Linked DNA regions of Homo sapiens: region 1 is linked to region 2. Evidence: fine-mapped expression QTL. A gene starts in region 2. The other region holds a variant in brackets. All regions are shown on one strand. Distances are between the middles of the regions.

Evidence for each region.
Region 1: its variant is fine-mapped to the expression of LRRC36 in visceral fat (GTEx, PIP 0.92).

The regions. Positions count from the first base shown.
Region 1 is chr16:67,788,675-67,801,070 of GRCh38, forward strand. All of the region lies in intron 2 of RANBP10 (RAN binding protein 10), which reads right to left. Among named protein-coding and RNA genes, the nearest start is that of RANBP10, 12 kb to the right of the region's middle. The variant C/T (reference allele first, on the strand shown) is at 6,737.
Region 2 is chr16:67,320,301-67,332,696 of GRCh38, forward strand. LRRC36 (leucine rich repeat containing 36) reads left to right here and starts at 6,515. Exons shown (of 14, transcript NM_018296.6): 1 at 6,515-6,632. The coding sequence starts at 6,563. It overlaps KCTD19 (potassium channel tetramerization domain containing 19), which reads right to left and starts at 6,441. Exons shown (of 16, transcript NM_001100915.3): 1 at 6,405-6,441; 2 at 289-585. The coding sequence starts at 6,407. It also overlaps the pseudogene RN7SKP118. RefSeq lists an enhancer at 4,573-4,652 and a silencer at 6,408-6,557.

The DNA.
Region 1 (12,396 bases), 470 kb after region 2:
CCACCGCTCCTGCCCCCAAAATTTTTTTTTAAATTAGTCAGGCAGGACGCGCACAGTGGCTCACACCTATAATTCCAGCACTTTGGGAGGCCGAGACGGGCAGATCTCTTGAGGTCAGGAGTTCGAGACCAGCCTGGCCAACATGGTGAACTCCATCTCTACTGAAAATACAAAAATTAGCCAGGTGTGGTGGCACACGCCTATAGTCCCAGCTACTTGGGAGGCTGAGGCAGGGGAATAGCTTGAACCGAGGTGGAGGCTGCAGTGAGCCAAGATCACACCACTGCACTCCAGCCTGGGCAACAGAGTGAGACTCCGTCTCAAAAGAGGAAAAAAAAAAAATTATCCAGGCAGGCCGGGCACAGTGGCTCACGCCTATAATCCCAGCACTTTGGGAGGCTGAGGCGGGCAGATTACTTGAGGTCAAGAATTCAAGACCAGCCTGGCCAATATGGTGAAATGCCATCTCTACTAAAAATACAAAATTTAGCCAGGTGTGGTGGTGCACGCCTGTAGTCTCAGCTAGTCAGGAGGCTGAGGCAGGGGAATAGCTTGAACCTGGGAGGTAGAGGTTGCAGTGAGCCAAGATCATGCCACTGCACTCCAGCCTGGGCACCAGAATAAGACTCCATCTCAAAAAAAAAAAAAAATGTACCCAGGCATGGTGGCATATGCCTGCAATCCTAGCTACTACTCAGGAGGCTGTGGCTAGAGGATTTCTTGAGCCTAGGAGCTCAAGGATACAGTGAGCCATGATTGTGCCACTGCACTCCAGTCTGGGCAACAGAACAAGACCATATTTCTTTTTTTTTTGAGATGGAGTCTCACTCTGTTGCCTAGGCTGGAGTGCAATGGCACCATCTCGGCTTGCTGCAACCTCCACCTCCTGGATTCAAGTGATTATCCTGCCTCAGCCTCCCAAGTAGCTGGGATTATAGGCACACACCACCACGCCTGGCTAATTTTTTGTATTTTTAGTAGAGACGGGGTTTCACCATGTTGGTCAGGCTGGTCTCAAACTCATGACCTCAGGTGATCCACCCATCTCAGTCTCCCAAAGTGCTGGGATTACAGGCATGAGCCACCATGCCCAGACAACCATATATCTTAAAAACAACTAAATAAATAAATAAGAAGAAATGGACTGGGCGCAGTGGCTCACACCTGTAATCCCAGCACTTTGGGAGGCCAAGACAGGCGGATCACGAGGTCAGGAGTTCAAGATCAATCTGACCAACATGGCGAAATCCCATCTCTACTAAAAATACAAAAATTGGCTGGGCGTGGTGGTGCACACCTGTAATCCCAGCTACTCGGGAGGCTGAGGCAGGAGAATTGCTGAACCTGGGAGGCGGAGGTTGCAGTGAGCCGAGATCGCACCACTGCACTCCAGCCTGGGTGACAGAATGAGACTCTGTCTCAAATTAAAAAAAAAAAAGAAGAAGAAGAAATGAAGTTATGAAACATGCCACAACACAGATAAACCTTGAAAACATAATGCTATGTGAAATGGGTCAGACACAAAAGGACCAATATTGTAGGATTCCCCTTACATGAACTATCAAGAATAAGCAAATTCATAGAAACAGAAAGTAGATCAGAGGTTAACAGGGACTAGGAGGAAGGAGAAATGGAGAATTACTGCTTAATGGGTACAGAGTTTCTGTTTGGGGTGATGGAAAAGTTCTAGAAATAGACAGTGATATGGTGATGGTTGCACAACATTGTGGATGCAATTAATACCACTGAATTACACACTGAAAATGGATAAAATGGCATATTTTATGTTACATATATTTTACCACACACACATACACAGAGACACCAAGAACACCCCTATGGCCCTGCAAACCAGCAAGGACCGCATCTGGCTTTTCCCGATGAGACAAGGGAGGCCCTGGCACAGAGCACAATGGGCAGCATAAGAGTATTCTGGCCTCACATTGGGGCCAGAAGTCCCGCACTTAGCCCACAGCAAATGACAAGAGTGAAGAAGGACCCAACTGTTTCTACTTTTACCAATTTTTTATTTTTTTATTTTTTGAGATGGAGCCTCAATCTGTTGCCTAGGCTGGAGTGCAGTGGCACAGTCTTGGCTCACTGCAACCTCCGCCTCCCAGATTCAAGCAATTCTCCTGCCTCAGCCTCCTGAGCTGCTGGGATTACAGGCACTCGCCACCATGCCTGGCTAATTTTTGTATTTTTAGTAGAGACGGGGTCTCATCATGTTGACCAGGCTGGTCTCAAACTCTTGACCTCATGATCCACCCACCTCAGCCTCCCAAAGTGCTGTGATTACAGGCATAAGCCACAGAGCCTGGCCAGTTTTACCAATTTATTTCTTTTTTTTTTTTTTTGAGACAGAGTCTCGCTCTGTCGCCCAGGCTGGAGTGCATTGGCGCAATCTCGGCTCACTGCAACCTCTGCCTCCCGGGTTGAAGCGATTCTCCTGCCTCAGCCTCCCAAGTAGCTGGGACTGTAGGCGTGTGCGACCACGCCTGGCTAATTTTTTGTATCTTTAGTAGAGACAGGGTTTCACCATGTTAGCCAGGCTGGTCTTGATCTCCTGACCTCGTGATCCACCCACCTCGGCCTCCCAAAGTGCTGGGATTACAGGTGTGAGCCACTATGCCCGGCCCAGTTTTACCAATTTCTTTTTAGAGGGAAGGTATATTTCATGGGCTGGCAAGCCTATGGGCACTTTTAAGAACTGCTGCATAAGATACAGGAGCCAATGGGGCTCGACGTTTTAAATTTAAGCTCCATCAGCAGGATGTCCCTACACCCACAGGGCTCTGGTAGGAAGTGATGAAAAGGAGAGAAGAGACAAGGTCTTCAGCCTCAGGGCTGAGATGGCTGTTGGAGGCTGCAGGAAGGTACCAGCTCTGCCACCTACCCTCAGGTGAAAGGGCTAGTCACCAGTACCCCCAACCCTAGACCTCCCAGGGGCTCCAGGAATCTCACTGGACAGTTTCATCTTGACATCTAATACCTTAGCCACAGTTCAGCAGGCTGGCAATCTTGTTGCTATCAGAACCTGCCCCAGAAAAGAAATCAACAGCCTCTACATCAAAGGGGAACTCTGGGACCTCAGTTACAAAATGATCCTTGGAAGATGGTTCAGGAAAAACAACAACTGATATTTAGGTCTGAAATGAGGGCTAATATTCAGTGCTAGGAATTTTATTTCATAGTCTAATCGGCCCACTTAAGGCCATAGTCAATGCCAGGTGTGCTGGCTCACACCTGTAATACCAGCCTTTGATAGGCCAAGGCAGGAGGATTGCTAGTGCCCAAGAGTTTGAGGCTGCAGTGAGTTATGATCACACCACTGCACTCCAGCCTGGGCAACAGAGTGAGACTCCGTCTCAAAAAAAAAAAAAAAAAGTAAATAAATAAATAAAGCAAGCTTCAGTCCATCATGACACTGGCTGCTACGTGTAAGCTGCTCCTCCAGCAAGCAACCATACCCGCCCCTGCCCCAGGAAGCCATGCAGTCACCCACTGAGCCCAATTCTGTGTAGATTTGCTACTAAGAGGAAGGGCATTACAGAGATGAGTGACCTGGGCCTTAGAACTATTCAAAAAATATAGGCTAGACCAGGCACCGTGGCTCACGCCTGTAATCCCAGCACTTTGGGAGGCCGAGGCAGGCGGATCACGAGGTCAGGAGATCAAGACCATCCTGGCTAACACGGTGAAACCCCATCTCTACTAAAAAAAAATACAAAAAAAAAATTAGCCAGGCGTAGTGGCGGACGCCTGTAGTCCCAGCTACTTGGGAGGCTGAGGCAGGAGAATGGCATGAACCTGGGAGGCAGAGGTTGCAGTGAGCCGAGATCCCGCCACTGCAGTCCAGCCTGGGTGACAGAGCGAGACTCCATCTCAAAAAAAAAAAAAAGAAATCGAAACCATCCTGGCCAATATGGTGAAGCCCCATAAAATACAAAATACAAAAATTAGCTGGGCATGGTGGTACGCACCTATAGTCCCAGCTACTCAGGAGGCTGAGACAGGAGAATCGCTTAAAACTGAGAGTCAGAGGTTGCAGTGAGCCAAGATCACACCACCGCACTCCAGCCTGGCAACAGAGCAAGACTCCGTCTCAAAAAAAAAAAAAAAGAATAGGCCAGAAAGCAAAGGGGCCTCAAGTTAGGGTGCTCGTATGGAGAAATGTGGTTCTGTGTATGGGTCAGGAGACCCTCATGTGCCCAATGTCACCAGCACTATCAAAGCACCCCGAGAGATTACCAGACAAAAGGGGCAGAACAGCCCCTATTGGTGGCCCTAGGCAGGTTACACATCCTTGGTTCTGAGCTCCTTCTCTAATGTACTAACAGAGTCTCAAGTACCAAACCTTGACTTTCCAGAGCCTGCCACATTCAAAAACCCAAAGGCACTGCCCGTAACCGGAGGGTGTAGCCACTAATGCCCCAGCTTAATTTGAGAGAGTTCCCATTAGACCCCACAGGGGTCTAACCTCCACCTCTATGGCCCTGTGTAATTACGGAGCTGAAGCACACAAGCATAGCAGTGTGTGAACACCACAAATGTCCTTTGGTACACAGACACTACCCTTAACTCTAGTTACAGGTGTTCATCCAGACACTGGCCTTGAGTTGGCTGGCTTGTAATTTTTTTTTTTTTTTTTTTTTTTAGATGGAGTTTCACTTGTTTGACTGGCTGGAGCACAATGGCACGACCACGGCTCATTGCAACCTCCGCTTCCCAGGTTCAAGCAATTCTCCTGCCTCAGCCTCCCGAGTAGCTAGGATTACAGGTATACGCCACCATGCCTGGCTAATGTTTGTATTTTTAGTAGAGACAGGGTTTCACCATGTTGGTCACGCTGGTCTCAAACTCCTAACCTCAGGTGATCCGCCCACCTCAGCCTCCCAAAGTGCTGGGATTACAGGCGTGAGCCACCGTGCCCAGCCTCGCTTGTAATATTTTATCTGCCATCTTATTTTCAATCGGAGACATTATTTAAGTAGCCTAGTCCACCACTACATGAAAATTCTAAGTCTTGATAATTTTATAAGCATCAAAGTCCATATATTAAACCCCTTTCTACTGGAAATTTCTGGTTTCTGTTTTCTGCATTTGCTTCTACTAGTACTATGCACATAATGGCCATAAGCCTGCATTTGTTTAAACCTGCATCTCTCTATCCCTCTGCTATTTATTTTTATTTTTTATTTTATTTATTTATTTATTTATTTTTGAGACGAGTCTCACTCTCTCATCCACACTGGAATGCAGTAGCTCAATCATAGCTCACTGTAGCCTCAAACTCCTGGTTTCAAGCAATCCTCCTGCCTCAGCCTCCCAAGTAGCTAGGTCTACAGAAGTATTCTATCACACCCCGCTCATTTTTAAAAATGTTTCGTAGAGGTGGGGGTCTCACTATGTTGTCCAGGCTGGTCTTGAACCCCTAGGCTCAAGCAATCCTTCCGTCTTGGCCTTCCAAAGTGCTGGGACTGGTCGGGGTGGTGGCTCAAGCCTGTAATCCCAGCACTTTGAGGGGCCGAGGCGGGCAGATCACCTGAGATCAGCAGTTTGAGACCAGCCTGGCCAACATGGCGAAACCCCATCTCTACTAGAAATACAAAAATTAGCCAGGCATGGTGGTGCATGCCTGTAACCTCAGCTCTCAGGAGGCTGAGGCGGGAGAATTGCTTGAACTCAGGGGGCGGAGGTTGGAGTGAGCCGAGGTCATGCTGCTGCACTCCAGCCTGGGTGACACAGCGAGACTCCGTCTCAAAATAAAAAACGAGCCACCACACCCGGCCTGCTGTGTATTTTTTAAACGTAGACTTTATCAGGTATTAAAAAAATCCAACATATTCTTTTTTTTTTTTTTTTTGAGATGGAGTCTCACTCTGTCTCCCAGGCTGGAGTGCAGTGGCACGATCTCGGCTCACTATAACCTCCGCCTCCCAGGTTCAACCAATTCTCCTGCCTCAGCCTCCCGAAGAGCTGAGACTACAGGTGTGTGCCACCATGGCCAGCTAATTTTTTTGTATTTTTAGTAGAGACAGGGTTTCACCGTGTTAGCCAGGATGGTCTTGATCTCCTGACCTCATGATCCACCTGCCTCAGCCTCCCAAAGTGCTGGGATTACAGGCTTGAGCCACTGGGCCCAGCCTAAAAAAAATCCTACATATTCTTTAACAGTTAAAAAAAAAAATTTCAGGCCACTATCTTGCCACTGCACTCCAGCCTAGGTGACAAGAGTGAGACCCTGCCTCAAATTAAAAAAAAAAAAAAACAAAAAAAAAAAACAGCAACAAAAAAAGGCCAAGTACAGTGGCTCACACCTGTAATCCCAGTACTCCGGGAGGCCAAGACAGGCAGATCACTTAAGCCCAGGAAGATCACCCTGGGCAAGTGGTGAAATTCCATTTCTACTTAAAAAAAAAAAAATTAGCTGAGCATGATGGCATGTGCCTGTAGTCCCAGCTACTCAGGAGGCTGAGGTGGGAGAATCTCTTGAGCAGGAGGGGAGGTTGCAGAGCCATGATTGCAATACTGCACTCCAGCCTGGGCAACAGAGTGAGACCCCGCCTCAAAAAAATAAATAGGCTGGGTGCGGTGGTCCACACCTATAATCCCAGCACTTTGGGAGGCTGAGGTAGGAGGATGACCTAAGGTCGGGAGTTCAAGACCAGCCTGACCAACATGGAGAAACCCTGTCTTTACTAAAAATACAAAATTAGCCAGGCATGGTGGTGCA[C/T]GCCTGTAATCCCAGCTACTCAGGAGGCTGAGGCAGGAGAATCGCTTGAACCCGGGAGGCGGAAGTTATGGTGAGCCAAGATCGTGCCATTGTACTCCAGCCTGGGCAACAAGAGTGAAACTCCGTCTCAAAATAAACAAACAAATAAAATAATTTTTTAAAAATAAAGGTTTTCGGCCGGGCGCGGTGGCTCACACCTGTAATCCCAGCACTTTGGGAGGCCGAGGCGGGTGGATCACGAGGTCAGGAGATCGAGACCACGGTGAAACCCCATCTCTACTAAAAATACAAAAAATTAGCCAGGTGCGGTGGCGGGCACCTGTAGTCCCAGCTACTCAGGAGGCTGAGGCAGGAGAGTGGCGTGAACCCGGAAAGTGGAGCTTGCAGTGAGCTGAGATCGCACCACTGCACTCCAGCCTGGGCGACAGAGTGAGACTCCGTCTCAAAAATAAACAAACAAACAAACAAACAAATGTTTTCTATACGTAAAATAAAAATATTTTGATTTTTTTTTTTTTTTTTTGGAGACAGAGCCTTACTCTGTTGCCCAGGCTGGAGTGCAGTGGCACAGTCTCAGCTCACTGCAACCTCCACCTCCCGCGTTCAAGTGATTCTCCTGACTCAGCCTCCTGAGTAGCTGGGATTACAGGCGCCTGCCACCATGCCCAGCTAATATTTTTTACTTTTAGTAGAGACAGGGTTTCGCCATGTCGGCCAGGCTGGTTTCAAACTCCTGACCTTGTGATCCGCCTGCCTCGGCCTCCCAAAGCGCTGGGATTACAGGTGTGAGCCACAGCACACAGCCTATTTTGATTTTTATAAAAGTAAATATAACTACTGACAAACTACTGGTGCAAGTTGTTATAAAAACAGGGCATTCCATTTTTTTAAAAAGTCCATGCCAATTTCAGATACATGGCTTTATAAACTGGGTTAGAATCAGTTCTACTCAGCAATCCAACCCCTCTGTTTCTTTCCTCTTGGTTCAGCTCTGCCTTGGGACTCTCCTTTAGAAGAAATAAGCTGAGCCCTCAACCATCTGGGCCTCTATCCACTTATCTTCCAACCACCTCCACCCTGAGGGCTAGTAGATTTCATCTCATGATGAAACTCTGACCAGTAAATTATAGCTGCCTGATGTGCTGTGCATTGAGAAAAATTCTGGGCTCTGTCTGGACAAGAACAAGTGCTACTGTCAATCAGTAATGTTGGTCATAGAAGCTGAGGGTATTGTGGGGTATTGGGGCCTTCACACTTGCCACCCCTGACCTAAACTAAACTCCCCTGAAACCCCAAGCATCTCTAATTCCAAGAGTTAAGTAACAAGAAATGGCATAAGAGGGGTGCCAAGGGCTTCCCCAGTCCCCTCCCAACTTCCCTATATAGTACAGAGCATCTTGTTCTGGCCCCTTCATGACAGAAGGGCTAGGCTCTGTTCCACCACCAAGTCACAACACCAACGATCCTAGAATTACAAAGACATTTTATATGGATTTTGAACAGAATGGAGAGGCAGAGGAACATCTTTGCATTTAGACATAATTATCCATCCCTCTTCCACTGATGAGTCCCTTCTTTCCAACTTGACCCGACCACACAAGACCCACTCTGGAGCCCTTTATTCCTTCCCAATGGTCCCATAATAGGAATGGCACACAGTGCCTGCCACATGGGGCTGCTAGGTTCATCCTCCTGTGCTCTGGCCTGATGAGCTTCTGCTTCTCTTCTAACAAGGAATCTCCCTTACACCATGACCCATACAGGGAAAAGACCAAAAGTTCCAGAGAACAAAAACACCATCAAGGCAGAAAGGCAGGAGGTGAAGTGAATTCTAGGAATTTCTCTAAAAGCTAATCCTTGACCAAGAAGGCCCCAGCTATAAAGAAGGCAACGACGCTCCCCACTCTCAGCTCACAGTTGGAGCCTGGGTAGCAACATACAGTGAGGAGGGAGGCCCTACCAGAAAAGTGGCCACAGGCCAGGTGTGGTGGCTCATGCCTGTAATCCCAGCACTTTGGGAGGCTGAGGCAGGAGGATTGATTGAGCGTAGGAGTTCCAGACCAGCCTAGGAAATATAGCAAGACCCTGTCTCTACAAAAAATTTAAAAATTAGCCAGGGCTGGGGATGGTGGCTCACACCCGTAGTCCCAGCACTTTGGGAGGCTGAGGTGGGCAGATCATTTGAGGTCAGGAGTTCAAAACCAGCCTGGCCAACATGGCAAAACCTCGTCTCTACTAAAAATACCAAAATTAGCCAGGTGTCATGGCACACGCCTGTAATCCCAGCTACTCAGGAGGCTGAGGCATGAGAATCACTTGAACCCTGGGAGGCGGAGGTTGCAGTGAGCCGAGATCACTCCACTGGACTCCAACCTGGGTGACAGAGCAACACTCTGTCTCAAAAAATAAATTAAATAAATAAAATAAAAATTAGCCAGGCATGATGGCATGCACCTGTAGTCCCAGCTACTCAAGAGTCTCAGGTAGGAAGATTGCTTGAACTCAGGAGGTCGAGGCTGCAGTGAGCCATGATTGTGCCACTGCACTCCAGCCTGAGTGACAGAGAGAGACCCTCTCTCAAAAAAAAAAAAAAAAAAAAAAGCAAAGAACAGTGGCCACCATCTAGACTCCAGTTCTCTTACCCCGTGTTCCAGAACCCAAACATCCTACCCTGTGTTCCAGAACCCAAACATTCCATGTCTCCACAAATAGCACAATGTGTTACCTGAGTAGAAGTGCAGCCCAAAGCTCAGCATCTGCCTGTAAGACCATCAACTCCGGGGGGCAGTAAGGGAAAATGGGGCACAACCACGGCCTGTACCTACCTTGGGCAAGGACAGCACCTTCTTATCAGGGCGGGCAGGACAACGCCTTCCCCAGATGACATATGAGCACCAAAGTTCTCAACAGCACTGTACAATGCATGTAGACTGGAACTTGGTGAGGGGATCCAGGGTGAGAAGCCAGCCACAGCTGTCTCTCAGCTGGAAGGGCCTAAGCTTAGATGGTCCTCCACACCAGGAATGTGGCAGGTGAGATCTTAATCAAGATATCTTAATTAACAGTGGCTCTCTAGGTCTCCATGGAAAATCACTTTGGCTGATTCTGGCTCACCAGAGGAGATGCTTGGGTATAAAACATGGGGCATTACTGTCTTTCAGATGGGAGCTGGCAAAACCAAAATACCAGAACTCCAGCACAAGCAGAGTCCTCTCACCTCTGAGAAGCCTCCTGGCTACCAGTCTTTCACACCCCATCCCTTCATCTCTTCATACCAAAGGAACAGCCAAGAGAAAAAAAGACAACCGCTATGAGAAAACCATGCTAGAGCCAAAGACCTAAAGTCACTGGCCCACCCTGGACAAGGGCTCTTGGCCAGAGAAGCCTGGCTGAACCAGACTGGCAGAGTCTCTTCTTTTCTTCACTCTCAAAAGCATGGGTAGATCCACAGCCCCCCACACTGCTACTGCCCTCAAGATACAGCCCACGCTCCCTGGCCACAGCATACAAGGTATTTTCTTTTTTATTTTTTTAAGACAGAGTCTCACTCTGTCACCCAGGCTGGAGAGCAGTGGCGTGATCTCGGCTCACTGCAACCTTCACCTCCCAGGTTCGAGTGATTCTCCTGCCTCAGCCTCCCAAGTAGCTGGGATTACAGGCATGCACCACCACTATTATTAGCGCCTGGCTAATTTTTGTATTTTTAGGAGAGATGGGGTTTCGCCATGTTGGCCAGGCTGTTCTCGAACTCCTGAACTCAAGTGACCTGCCCGCCTCAGTCTCCTAAAGTACTGGGATTACAGGCATGAGCCAGGCCACACACAAGGTATTTTCAGTCTGGCCCTACCGACCTCATGTTCTGCGCTCCACATCTCTTTTTTTTTTTTTTTTTTTTGAGACAGAGTCTCGCTCTGTTGCCCAGGCTGGAGTGCAGTGGCGCGATCTCGGCTCACTGCAAGCTCGGCCTCCCGGGTTCACGCCATTCTCCTGCCTCAGCCTCCCGAGTAGCTGGGACTACAGGCGCCCGCCACCATGCCTGGCTAATTTTTTGTATTTTTAGTAGAGACGGGGTTTCACCATGTTAGCCACGATGGTCTCGATCTCCTTACCTCGTGATCCGCCCGCCTTGGCCTCCCAAAGTGCCGGGAATACAGGTGTGAGCCACTGCGCCCGGCCAGCTCCATGTCTTTTTATGCACTGTTTCTTCTGCCTGAAGCATCTGCTTCTCACTTTGTTCACCTAGAACACTCTAACTCCTCTTTCCAGAGCCCACATCACCTCTTATATGATTCTATGATGTTTTCCTCAAACTCTGAGGTACAGTCCATCCTCCAGGCCACCCCTGGATATGACACATACGGTGGCCTGACCCTTCGACACCACCGGTGGGGCCTCATGCCTGTGCTCCTGGGGCCCAGGCTGGGACAAAACAATGGATGTGATGGCTCACACCTGTAATCCTAGCACTTTGGGAGGCTGAGGAGGGCAGATCATGAGGTCAAGAGATCTAGAACATCCTGGCCAACATGGTGAAACACCGTCTCTACTAAAAATACAAAAACTAGCTGGGCATGGTGGTGCACGCCTGTAGTCCCAGCTACTCGGGAGGGTGAGGCAGGGGAATCACTTGAACCCAGGAGGCGGAGGTTTGCAGTGAGCCAAGATTGTGCCACTGCACTCCAGCCTGGCAACAGAGCGAGACTCTGTTTCAAAAACAACAACAACAACAACAACCAAAAAAAAAAAACAATGGGTACTGCGCCCTGGTGTCTGGAATGAATGAATGAGTGCACTGCTGCCTGGCCAAAGGAAGTCAGCTGCAGGAGCAAGGGAAGGCTGGCTGTGGTCAGAGACCCCTGCTCTGGGCCTGGGCCCAGACACTGGCTACAGAGGAAAATGCCCCCACCCCTCTCCATGCCTTCCAGTGCTCTAGCCCAGGCCTACTACTCTTGGGTAAAGCAACCATCACATGTCAGGAGGCCTCCGCCGCTGGGATGATGTTACAGTCTATTTTGAGGGTCACACTGGAGCATCTGTCAGCCTAGCCAGCCACACCCTCCATGTGTCATCACTAAGAGCCAGGGACACCCACAGGTCCATGAACTCTGCCTGCAGACATTGCTCCTCCCCAGGGACCCTCAGCTTCAGGCCCTCCTTCGCTTCCTAGAAAGACAGACCTGGATGCCCCTTATCTCCTGGCACCACTGGCAGTGCTCTGATGTCTCCTCACCCCACCAGACCCGCTCCCCGAGTTCACAGCTCTGGTGACTCGGCAAAATGCAGTTGAAGCCCATCAGTCTGTGCCAAGCTCTTAGCTCAAACACAGCCCCTCCTACTCCACAGAGCTCTCTTATACTTGAGGAGTGCCCAGAAAGCCTAGCACCCAGAAGTCAAGCTAGTTACCCATCAGACTCATAGGTCTAACAGGTCTCGCCTACTGGGGAACTCCTACTCATTCCTCCCAACTGTTCCCAGGCTCTGCCTCCTCTTGCAGAAAGACTTTCAGTCCACTCTCTACTGAATGGGCCACAGGCTTCCTGAGGACAAAGCTGATCTGTGCTGGCTTTACATCTGTTCTCCCTATACCTAGTATAGGGCCTGGAACATAGTAGGTATATATAAATATTCTGTGAAATCTTGACATGAAACTTTCCTTATTA
Region 2 (12,396 bases):
GGAAGATCCTTTGGGCTTGGGAGGTGGAGGTTGCAGTGAGCTGTGATTGCAGCAGACACCCTGTCTCGAAAAAACAAAAGCAGGTAATTTCAGTGTATTGTTTATTACTTTTTTTTCCTTTTTACTCACCCCTATACTAATGAGGAAATTATTTATTACTTTAACACACTTATTACATTTGCCCATTAAGAGGGTCATCTCAGCAACCAATATATAACAGGAAACAATATTTAGTGATGTAAAGCCATGTTACTGATCCACCACTCCCAGAAAACAAGAGCATCTTACCTGCAGCAAAGGCATCAGCTGCAAACCCAATGCTTGCTCATACAGCAAGTTCAGTTCTGCACAACTGGAGAAGGAGAGTTTGGAGGTGTAGAGGTAATAGTGCACGTGCCTAAATGTGGAACCATCTCTGTCGATAAATAGCCTCTGGCTTTCTGAAGAGGTCAAGGCTGAAGCCTCTTTCCACAGCAGGGAGTCTGGAAACTGAGAGAGTTTGCTTCTGGGAACTGAGAAATGCCAGCCCCCTACGTTGAAATGAAACAAGTCCTCTGCTGATTCATGAGCCATGCCAGACTCCTCCTAAAGGGGGAATGAAAAAGAGATCTACGCAAGAAAAAGAAATAAAAAGGCATCCAGATTGAAAAGGTAGAAATAAACTATCTCTGTTTGCTGATGACATGATCTTGTATATAAAAAATCCTAAGGAATTCACCAGAAAACTATTAGAAATAAGTCCAGGCCAGGCATGGTGGTTCACACCTGTAATCCAAGCACTTTGGGAGCCTGAGGTGGGAAGGTGGCTTGAGACCAGGAGTTTGAGGTTGCAGTGAGCTATGATTGTGCCACTGTACTCTGGCCTAACAGAGCAAGATCCTGTCTCAAAAAAGAAAAACAAACAAAAAAATGAGCCCAACAAGGTTGAAAGATGCAGAGCAATATTTAAAAATGTTGTATTTTTATACTTCAGCAATGAACAATCTGAAAGTGAAATTAAGAAAACAATTCAATTCCATTTACAATAGCATCAAAAATAACATACTTAGGAATAAATTTAACAAAAGAATGAAATACATGTGCACTGGAAACTTCAAAACATTGTTGAAAATTTAAAAGACCTAAATAAATGAAAAAATATCTCATGCTCATGGATTGGAAGATTTAATATCGTTAAGATGGCAATAGTCTCCCAATTGATTTACAAATTCAACACAATCTCTGTGAAAATCCTGACTTTTTGCAAAAATTGAAAAACTGATGCTAAAATTCATATGAAAATACAAGGGATCCAGAATAGCTAAAACAGTCTTGAAAAAAGGAGAACGTTTAAGAAGTCACATTTCCCACTTTTTTTTTTTAAAGGCAGACTGCCACATGCAGCGCCTCATTAGGATGTGTCTGAAGTCTTGGAAGCTTGACTACCCTACGTTCTCCTACAACGGATCTTAAGAACTTGTTTGGAGGTTCTAGCTAGGAAGAGCAGATACTTGTATACCCTTGACTGAAGACTGGTCCTCCTTTATTGGGGATGGTCGTCCTCTTTGACTGAGCACGCAGCTTCAGGAGGGACGCACGTGGAGCGTTGAGGGAAGAAGGGGACACCCGCCTAGACAGCCAGATCAGCCAAATCAACCCTGGCAATCAATGGAGTGACAGATGTCACAGCCAGATCACCCTCACATCCCACACTTTTAAAACTTATTTCAAAGCTAGATCAAGACAGTGTGCTACCAGCATAAGGATAAATATAAAGATAAGTGGAATAGAATTGAGAGTACAGAATAAAACCCCTACACTTATGATCAATTGAATTTTGATAAGCAATCCAAGATGATTCAATGGACAAAGAATAGTCCTTATTAAAAATGGTGCTGGGACAACTGCCCATCCATATGCATAAAAGATAATAATAACAATAATAATAAAGTTGGACCCCTACCTCAACCCATACACAAAAATTAGCTGCAAGTGAAACAGACCTAAAACTATAAAATCTTTTTTTTTTTTTTTTTGAGACGGAGTCTCGCTGTATCACCCAGCCTGGAGTGTAGTGGTAACAATCTCGGCTCACTGCAAACTCCACCTCCCGGGTTCACTCCATTCTCCTGCCTCAGCCTCCTGAGTAGCTGGGACTACAGGCACCCGCCACCACGCCCGGCTAATTTTTTGTATTTTTAGTAGAGATGGGGTTTTACTGTGTTAGCCAGCATGGTCTCGATCTCCTGACCTCGTGATCCACCTGCTTTGGCCTCCCAAAGTGCTGGGATTACAGGCGTGAGCCACTGCACCCAGCCTAAAACCATAAAATCTTTAGAAGAAAATAGAAAATCTTCATGACTTTGGAGTAGGCAAAACTTTCTTAGATGTGACACTAAAAGCAAAAGTGACCAAAAAAATAGATAAATGGAACTTAATCAAAATTTAAAAACATTTGTGCTTTAGAGGGCACCATCAAGAAGGTGAAAAGATAACTCACAGAATGGAACAAAATATTTGCAAATCATTTGTCTGATAAAGAACTTGTTTTTAGAATATATAAAGAACTCTTAAACTCAATAACAAAAAGACAACCAAATTTAAAAATTGGCAAAGCATCTAAATAGACATCTCTCCAAAGAATATATACAAATGACCAACAGAACGAAAAAAGATGCTCAACATCCTTAGTCATCAGAGAAATGCAAATCAAAACCCACAACAGAATACTACTTCACACCCATTAGTATGGCTACAATGAAAACAATAGGTAATAACAAGTGTCGACAAAGAAACCAGAACCCCCATGCACTGCTGGTGGAGGTGTAAAATGGTGCAGGCACTTTGGAAAACAGTTTGGTGGGTCCTGAAAATGTAAAGCATGGAGTTATTCTACTATGAGCCAGCAATTCCACTCCTAGGTGTACACTTAAGACAAATAAAGACATATGTCCACACCAAAATTTCTAGACTAATGTTCATAGAACATAATAGCCAAAAGGTTGGAATAAACCTAATGTCCATCAACTGACAGATGAGTAAACAAAATGTAGTATATCCACACAATGGAATATTGTTTGTCAATACGAAGGAATGGGATGAACATGGTGGCTTGTGCTTGTAATCCCAGCACTTTGGAAGGCTGAGGCAGGAGATTCACTTGAGCCCAGGAGTTTGAGGCTGCAGTGAGCTGTGATCGTGCCATTGCACTCCAGCCTGGGCGTCAGAGTGAGGCACGTCTCTAAAAAAATAAAAAATAAAAAGGAATGAAGTACTGATACATGATAACAACATGGATGAAATTCGAAACATTATGCCAAGGGAAAGAAGCCAAACAAAAAATCACATATGATTCCATCCACATGCAATGTGTGGACAAGGCAAATTTCTAGAGATAGAAAATAGATTAGTGGTTGCCTAGGGCTGGAGAGGCTATGGGGAGATGGGGTGTGACTACTAATGAGTATGGGATTTCTTTTGGGGATGGTGAAAATGTTCTAAAATTGATTGTGATGATAGTTGCACAACTCTGAACATACTAAAACTCACTGAATTGTACACATTAAAATGTGTGAATTGTATGGTATGTGAATTATATCTCAATAGATCTACAAAAAAAAAAAAAGATGAGGTACTGTCCATTCCATGGAGCGCATGCAGAACTCTCTTGGGATCTTACCTGCAGAGACATTACATTACTGGAGGATGAATGCTATAGATACCTTTTCATATATACAAAGGCAGCAAAGATCACTAACCTTCCTCAGCTCATTGTTAAAAGTTTAAGGTCATCTGTATATCTGTTGGACAAGAGGTTGTTGAAAAAAAAGTTTAAGGTCATCTGTACATCTGTTGGACAAGAGGTTGTTGAAAAAAAAGTTTAAGGTCATCTATTTATAAGTGAATTGTCTTCTTTGTTTCAAGATGACCTAGTTTATCAATACGATGGAAAAGTAGAGAGCCATCAAACATACAAACCATCCATATCAAATTTTAAAATAAAGGGCACTACCCTTGTAAAAATATTTTTTAAAGGGTAGTAAATAGTATATAGAATTTTACCTAAAAAGAACCATAAAACAATATCGAATTCTAATTAAAAATTATGCAGGCTGAAGTGATTGGACTGCAATGTACTGATATCTGCAATTTATTTTGAGATGAATTTAAAAAAGACAGATTGATGGACAGATAGGATTGCTAGATGGACATGTGATAAAACAAATATGAGCAAAATGTTGATTGTAGAATGCAGGTGGTGGATATATGGTGCTCACTGTACAATTCTTTCAATCTTTCTGTGTTTATAAAATTGCATTAAGACGTTCGTGGGGGAAAAACAGTGTTAAAGTAAGAGGTGATTACTTAAGAAAGGAAAAGCTCCCTGCTCCAGAAAGAACCTGCATTTCCCATTCTGACAGCTGAGGAAGGAAAATAAATGCATGCAAGAAAGAATGGGATGGGGTCCATCTCTCCCACAGCAATATTCAGACATAAAGAAGAGCAATTATATATGCCACATTTGAGACTAGAAGAGTTAAAGGGGGTAATAAGAGAAATATGACAAATTGTGAAATGATTGCATAACTGACAGAAGCAGAGCCAGAAAAGTCAATCTAATGAGCTAACCTAGAATTCTAAGTCCCAGCCCTTCTAAAAGCCTTTCTACAAGTTCATGTTCAGGCAAAGGCTGAATGTAACAAATGGAGTGACTAAGGGTCTCACATAGACCAGAAAGCATAAATATGCAAGGAAGGACCCTTGATTCTGCTTTCTGTTCTCCTTAAAGGTGGCTGAGAGCTCAATGGGGGTGCTCAGAGTGTGCAGATGTTGGATGCCAAAGAAAACCTACTTCTCGAAGGTGAGCCCCAGTTCTGGTCTCAGTTCCTCTTTTCTTTCTTTCTTTTTTTTCTTTTTTTCTTTTTTTCTTTTTTTTTTTTTTTGAGACGGAGTCTCGCTCTCTAGCCCAGGCTGGAGTGCAGTGGCACGATTTTGGCTCACTGCAAGCTCCACCTCCCGGGTTTACGCCATTCTCCTGCCTCAGCCTCCAGCCTCCTCAAGTAGCTGGGACTACAGGCGCCCGCCACCACGCCCGGCTTTATTTTATTTTATTTTATTTTATTTTGTTTTATTTTTGTATTTTTAGTAGAGATGGGGTTTCACTGTGTTAGCCAGGATGGTCTCGATCTCCTGACCTCGTGATCCACATGCTTCGGCCTCCCAAAGTGCTGGGATTACAGACGTGAGCCACCACGCCCAGCCCACCCTCTTTTCTTGTTAAGGATAGGGTGTGACAAGAGGGTCCTGGCTCCTTCTTACATACATGTCCCATCCACAGGTGGGCTCTTAAGTGCCTGCTGGAGTGAGGGTAGGGGTTAGGGATGCGGCTGTTCTTTCCCAAAGACTACTCAGGGGCTGGTTAGTGCAGAGCTATCGCAGCCTGGCGACAGCCCTCAGTCACAGGCAAGCTTAGGGGAACCTGTGGTGCTTGAAAGACAAAAGGCTTCTTGCCGGACTGACTTCAGGAAACGGGGTAGCCCTAAAGCAGTCATCCCCACCCCATTACAAAGAGCTTCTCTCTTTCCCACGCTGATCCTTCTCCCCCGAAGAAGCTCCGTCCAAGTAAATTTCTTACCTTTTTTTTTTTTTTTTTTTTGAGACAAGGTCTGGCTCTGTCACTCAGGTCGCCCAGGCTGGAGTGCAGTGGTGCAATCTCGGTTCACTGCAACCTCCACCTCCCGGGTTCAAGCGATTCTCCTGCCTCAGCCTCCCGAGTAGCTGGGACTACAGGCCGTGCCACCACACCCGGCTAATTTTTGTATTTTTAGTAGAGATGGGGTTTCACCATGTTGGCCAGGCTGGTCTTGAACTCTTGACCTCAGGTGATCCGCCCACCTCGGGCTCCCAAAGTGCTGGGATTACAGGCGTGAGACACCGCGCCCAGCCCGTCCAAGTCAATTTCTAGAGCTAGAACTTCCTCATGCTCTAAAGACAGGACCCCAACTCCTCAGAGCCAGGATTCCCAACCTTTCAGATCTGGAGCTCCCCATCATGCCTTAGAGTTCTGTCCCCACGCTCCAATCCTTCAGATTTGGATCTCCCCTTCACACACACCCTCGCCTTGCCCCAAAGTCAGCATCCCCCAGCGCTGAGATATGAAGACCACCCCGTCAAAGGGGCACACGCCCAGCCCTCAGAACCGGAGTCCCCCACATCCTCAGAGCCAGAACACTTCATCCCTCAAGACAGAGCGTTATTCTAACTCCTCAGAGCCAGCCCCCCAAATCCTTCCCGGCTGGGGGCCCCTCGCTCTCTCCCATGCCCCAGAGCCAGGTCTCGAACCACTTAGCCCCAATCCTTGGCCACAGCGGCCCCCATTCGCCGCTTTGGTGCTTTTGGCGCCCCCGCCAGAGCGGGCTCCGTACCATGGTCGCGGCTCCAGCAGCGGGCGGGCGGGCTTGTGACCCGGCCAATAACGGTTCCCGGGGTCGCGGCGGCGCGCGCGCGGGGGGCGGGGCAGTGGGCGGGGCCTGGCGTGCGCCGGGTGGTCTCGCGGGCGGTGGCAGGTGAGCGGCGGGCGGGGATGGCGGAGCAATGGGAGCTGGACGAGGAAGGCATTCGCCGCCTGGGGGCGCTGACGCTGGAGCAGCCGGGTAGGGTCTGGCCGGGAGGGTGTGGACTGGGAACGTAGGGTCAGAAGCTGTGGAAAGAAAACTGAAGTGGAAGGCGGGGAACCTGAGATAGAGGCGAGGGAACCACAGAGAAGCGGTACCTGAGGCTGGGGGGCGGGGGGATAACTTGAGGCAGAAGGTTAGAGGGAGGTGGAGGTGGAGGAACTGAAGTAACGGGAGGGTGTGGGGCAGAGCCCGAGGAATTGAGAGAGAAGAGGGGAGTGTGAAGTAGGGAAGGAGAAACAAGGTTAACAGGGGACCCTGCCGCAGGTGACAGAACTGCGGGGGGCGGTGGCTGACCGCTGTAATCCCAGCACTTTGGGAGGCGGAGGCGGGTGGATCACCTGAGCGTGGCCAACATGGTGAAACCCCGTCTCTACTAAAATACAAAAATTAGCCCGGCGTGGTGGTTCAAGTCTATAATCCCAGCTACTCGGGAGGCTGAGGCAGGAGAATCGCTTGAACCCGGGAGGCGGAGGTTGCAGTTAGCCGAGATCGCACCACTGCACTGCAGCCTGGGCGACAGAGCGAGACTCCATCTCAAAAATAATAATAATAAATAAAATAAATAAATAATAAAATGTCTATTAGACATCCAAGTGTAAGGTACCTAGTAGGCAGTTGGATATATGGGTCTGGACCTCAGAGGAGAGGTCAGGGTTAGAGATGAAAATTTTGGAGACATTAGCAATAGGTGGTATTTAAAGCTACGGGAGTGGATGAACTCAGCTAAGGAGAGAATGTCGATGGAGAAGTGAAAGAAAGCTTAAGACTCAACCTTGGAATATTTCAGTGTTTAGAGGTTGTATAGAGGAAGAATGTGGTATCTTGGAATTTGAGAAGGGGTAGTGTATCGAGCAAGCAATGGCCAACTGTGCCAAATGCTATTGACAGGCTGAGCAACTTAAATGCAGAGTGTCTGTTAGATTTAGCAACATGGAACTTACTGGTGACCTTGACAGAGGGAGTTTTGGGAGGGTGGGGAGGAGGGAAACCAGATTGGAGTGGGATGAAAAAGGGAAATGATATTTGAGGGGAAGAGACAGTGAAAGTAAGAACTTTTGCTGAAAATTTTAGCTGTAAAAGAGACTGCAGAAATAGATGGTAGCTGAAGCGTATGATGTGCAGTCAAGAACAGAACAGGAAGGATATACTAGAGCATGTCGGTAGTCTAATGATTAATTTGGTAGAGGGGGGAAATATGTAATATTTACTCATTTTGACTGTTAAAATAATTCAATTAATTTATTCTGTGGGTAATATAATAATTGTACAGTGAGGGCCAGGCGCGGTGGCTCACGACTGTAATCCCAGCACTCTGGGAGGCCGAGGCGGGCGGATCACGAGTCAGGAGATCGAGACCATCCTGGCTAACACAGTGAAACCCCGTCTCTACTAAAAATACAAAAAAAATTAGCGGAGCATGGTGGCGGGCGCCTGTAGTCCCAGCTACTCGGGAGGCTGAGGCAGGAGAATGGCGTGAACCCAGGAGGCGGAGCTTGCAGTGAGCCGAGATCGCGCCACTGCACTCCAGCCTGGGTGACAGAGTGAGACTCCGTCTCGAAAAAATAAATAAATAAAATAAAAATTGTACAGTGAGAAGAAAGTCTTTACTCCCCCATCCCCGTCTCATAGGCCTAGTTCCCCTTCCTAAAGGCAATTACTGTTACCAGTATCTTGGATAGTTTTCCAGAAATATTCTCTACATATATAAGCATTTATCACTTATTTTATAATTTTATATTATGGCAATTTTCAAATATATACAAGAGTAGAGATAACAGAATAATGAACTCTATTAGCCTACCTCAACAGTTATCATCAATTCATGGCCAAGCTTCTTTCACGTATACCTCACCTATCCTCCACCCACCTCCAACCCCCTACACTGACTATTTTGAAGCAAATTCCAAGTATGTGATTTCCTCCATAAATATTTCAGTAGTATTTTATTTATTTATTGTTTTTATTATTTTTCAGATAGAGTTTTGCTCTGTCACCCAGGCTCTAGGGCAGTGGCGTGATCTCGGCTCACTGTAATCTCCACCTCCGCATTTCAAGCGATTCTTCTGCCTCAGCCTCCCAAGTAGCTGGGACTACAGGCACCCGCCACCACGCCCGGCTAATTTTGTATTTTCAGTAGTGACAGGGTTTTGCCATGTTGGCCAAGCTGGTCTTGAACTCCTGACCTCAAGTGATCCACCCACCTCAGCCTCCCTAAGAGTTGGGATTATAAGTGCAAGCCACAGCACCTGGCCAGTATGTATTTTTAAAAGCTAAGATTACTTTAAAAAAAAGTCACATATGCAACCTAAAAAATTTAACAGTAATTTCTTTTTTTGGTTTTGTTTTGTTTTTGAGATGGAGTCTGGCTCTGTTGCCCAGGCTGGAGTGCAGTGGCATGATCTCAGCTCACTGCAACCTCTGCCTCCAGGGTTCAAGCAATTCTCCTGCCTCAGCTTCCTGAGTAGCTGGGATTTCAGGCATGTGCCACCATGCCTGGCTAATTTTTTTGTATTTTTAGTAGAGACGGGGTTTCACCATGCTAGCCAGGCTAGTCTTGAACTCCTGACCTCAAGTGACTCAGCCTCCTAAAGTGAACAGTGATTTCTTGATATCATGAAATATCTAACTAGTGTTCTTATTTCCCCAGTTGTCCTATAATTTTTTAAAATTAGAATCCATGGCCGGGTGCGTTGGCTCATGCCTGTAATCCCAGCACTTTGGGAGGCCAAGGTGGGTGGATCACTTGAGGCCAGGAGTTCAAGACCAGCCAGGCCAACATGGTGAAACCCCATCTCTATTAAAAATACAAAAATTAGCTGGACATGGTGGCTCACACCTGTAATCCCAACTACTTGGGAGGCTGAGGCAGGAGAATCGCTTGAACCCGGGAGACGGAGGTTGTAGTGAGCTGAGATCGCGTCACTGCACTCCAGCTTGGGTGGCAGAGCAAGTCTCCATCTAAAAAATAAAATAAAATAAGAATCCGTATATGGTCCATATATTGCAATTGGTTGATGTATGTCTTAAGTCTTATTTGATCTGTAGGCTCCCCATTTTTTTTCCCTCGCATTTTCAATTGTTTTTGAAGAAACTGGCTTTGAAAGAGTTTACTATAACCTGAACTTTGCTCATTGCATTCCTAAGATGTTAAACATTTTCCCGTGTTCCCTGTACTTCCTATGAATTGGTAGTTAGATGAGGCTTAATCAGATTCAGGTTGGATTTTTTTTTTTTCACAAGACGATTTCATAGGTAATGGTGTATGTTTATGTTAGGAAGTATATGGTGCCTAGTGTTCTTTCTTTTCGTGATATCAGCCACTGAATATGATTACCTAAGTTAATTCATTAGGGATTGCAAAATGGTAATTGTCTATTTCTTTCATTTTTCTTCATTAACTGTAATACTTCTATAAAGAGAAATTTCCTCACATCAACTGTTTGCTTATCCTGAGGTACAGTTTGTATAGGAAAGGCAGCATAAAAGCTTGATTTGTTTTCACCTTATATGCCAGCTTTCAGAATGATGAGTTATTTTCTTAGCATTCTCCAAAGGTGACCAGTGAGGACTGTTTTGCTTTCTCAGTATCATTATAAACTCATCGATTTAAATATATGTCTTAGGGCTGGGCATGGTCGTTCACGCCTGTAATCCCAGCATTTTGGGAGGCCAAGGAGGATGGATCACCTGAGGTCAGGAGTTCAAGACCAGTCTGTCCAACATGGTGAAACCTCATCTGTACTAAAAATACAAAAAAAATTAGCCCGGCATGGTGGCAGGTGCCTATAATCCCAGCTACTCAGGAGGCTGAGGCAGGAGAATCACTTGAGCCTGGGAAGCAGAGGTTGCAGTGAACTGAGATCGCACCACTGCACTTCAGCCTGGACGAAAGACTGAGACTCAGTCTAAATAAATAAATAAATAAATAAATGTCTTAGTCCCTTTTCTCTTGTCATAACAGAATACCATAGACTAGGTAATTTATAAAGAACAGAAGTTGATTTGGCTCATGGTTCTGGAGGCTGAGAAGTCCAAGAGCATGGTGCCAACATCTGGTGAGGGTCATTCCATGGTGGAAGGGCAGAAGGTGCATGTGTGAGATGTGAGAGAGAAAGAGAGAGAGAGAGAGAGAGAGAGAGAGAGAGAGAGAGAGAGAGAAGACTGAACTAATTCCTTTATTAGGATAGCTAACTCCCGTGATAACTAACTCCATGATAACAGCATGAAGCCACCGTTGACCTAATCACCTCTTAGAGGCCCCACCTCGCAGTGCTGTTACATTGGCAATTACGTTTCAACATGAAAGCTGGGCATGGCGGCTTACACACTTTGGAAGGCCAGGGAGGAGGATGAGGCCAGGTATTTGAGACCAGCCTGGGCAACACAGCAAGATCCTGTCTCTACAAAAAATTTAAAAATTAACTGGGTGTTGGTGGTGTGTACCTGTAGTCCCAGCTACTCAGGAGGCTGAAGTGGAAGGATCCTCTGACCCCAGGAGTTTTAGGCTGCAGTGCACTATGATAGTGCTACTGCCCTCCAGCCTAGTTGACAGAGCAAGGCCCTATCTCTGAATAAATTAATACATTTCATCATGAGTTTTGGAGGGGACGTTCAAACCATAGCAATATATTTCAATGTAAGTTTTAATCCATTATAGTTCTTATCATAATTGATGTTCAGTTTATCCTAACTTTAGTTAATAGGTGATCTTTCAAGTTGACTCCTGAGGTCTTTTTAAAAAAGTTTTATGGCCAGGTGTAGTGGCTCACGCCTGTAATCCCAGCACTTTGGGAAGCCGAGGGGGGTGGATCACCTGAGGTTGGGAGTTTGAGACCAGCCTGGCCAGCATGTTGAAACCCCATCTCTACTAAAAATATAAAAATTAGCTGGGCGGGGTGGCACATGCCTGTAATCCCAGCTACTTGGGAGGCTGAGGCAGGAGAATCGCTTGAACCCTGAAGGCGGAGGTTGCAGTAAGCCAAGATCACACCATTGCACTCCAGCCTGGGCAAAGAGAGCGAAACTCCATCTCAAAAAAAAAAAGAAAAAGAAAAAGTTTTATTTATTAGAAACATTCATTGTCATTATAAATAAGCTTTGTTAAAGGTTGTTAATTCAATTTCCAAATGAGCTGTAAATGGTTTTCATTAGAGAGACTACTTGATTTGTTATTTTCAAATAGCAAATTTTTGCCCACTGGGGTTATGTAACCCATATATTAAAATTGGAAGATCATTCTTTTATTCTTGGCATCTATGCTGTGCAGTGTTTGATTTGTTCTCTGATTTGTCTTCACTCTTTATAAACACTGAAACGGCCAGGCGCGGTGGCTTACGCCTGTAATCCCAGCACTTTGGGAGGCTGAGGAGGGCGAATCACGAGGTCAGGAGATCGAGACAACCCTGGCTAACATGATGAAACCCTGTCTCTACTAAAAATACAAAAAAATTAGCTGGGCATGGTGGTGGGCGCCTGTAGTCCTAGCTACTTGGGAGGCTGAGACAGGAGAATGGCGTGAACCTGGGAGGCAGAGCTTGCAGTGTGCCAAGATGGTGCCATTGCACTCCAGCCTGGGTGACAGAGCGAGACTCCGTCTCAAAAAAAAATAATAAATAAATAAATAAACACTGAAACGAAATGCATAACCTCTTAAGACATGCATTCATGTGAATCATTAAAGAATGTTTGTCTTTGTGGCAGTTTATCATTTTAATAATTCACATTCCTTCTTAAAATGTTA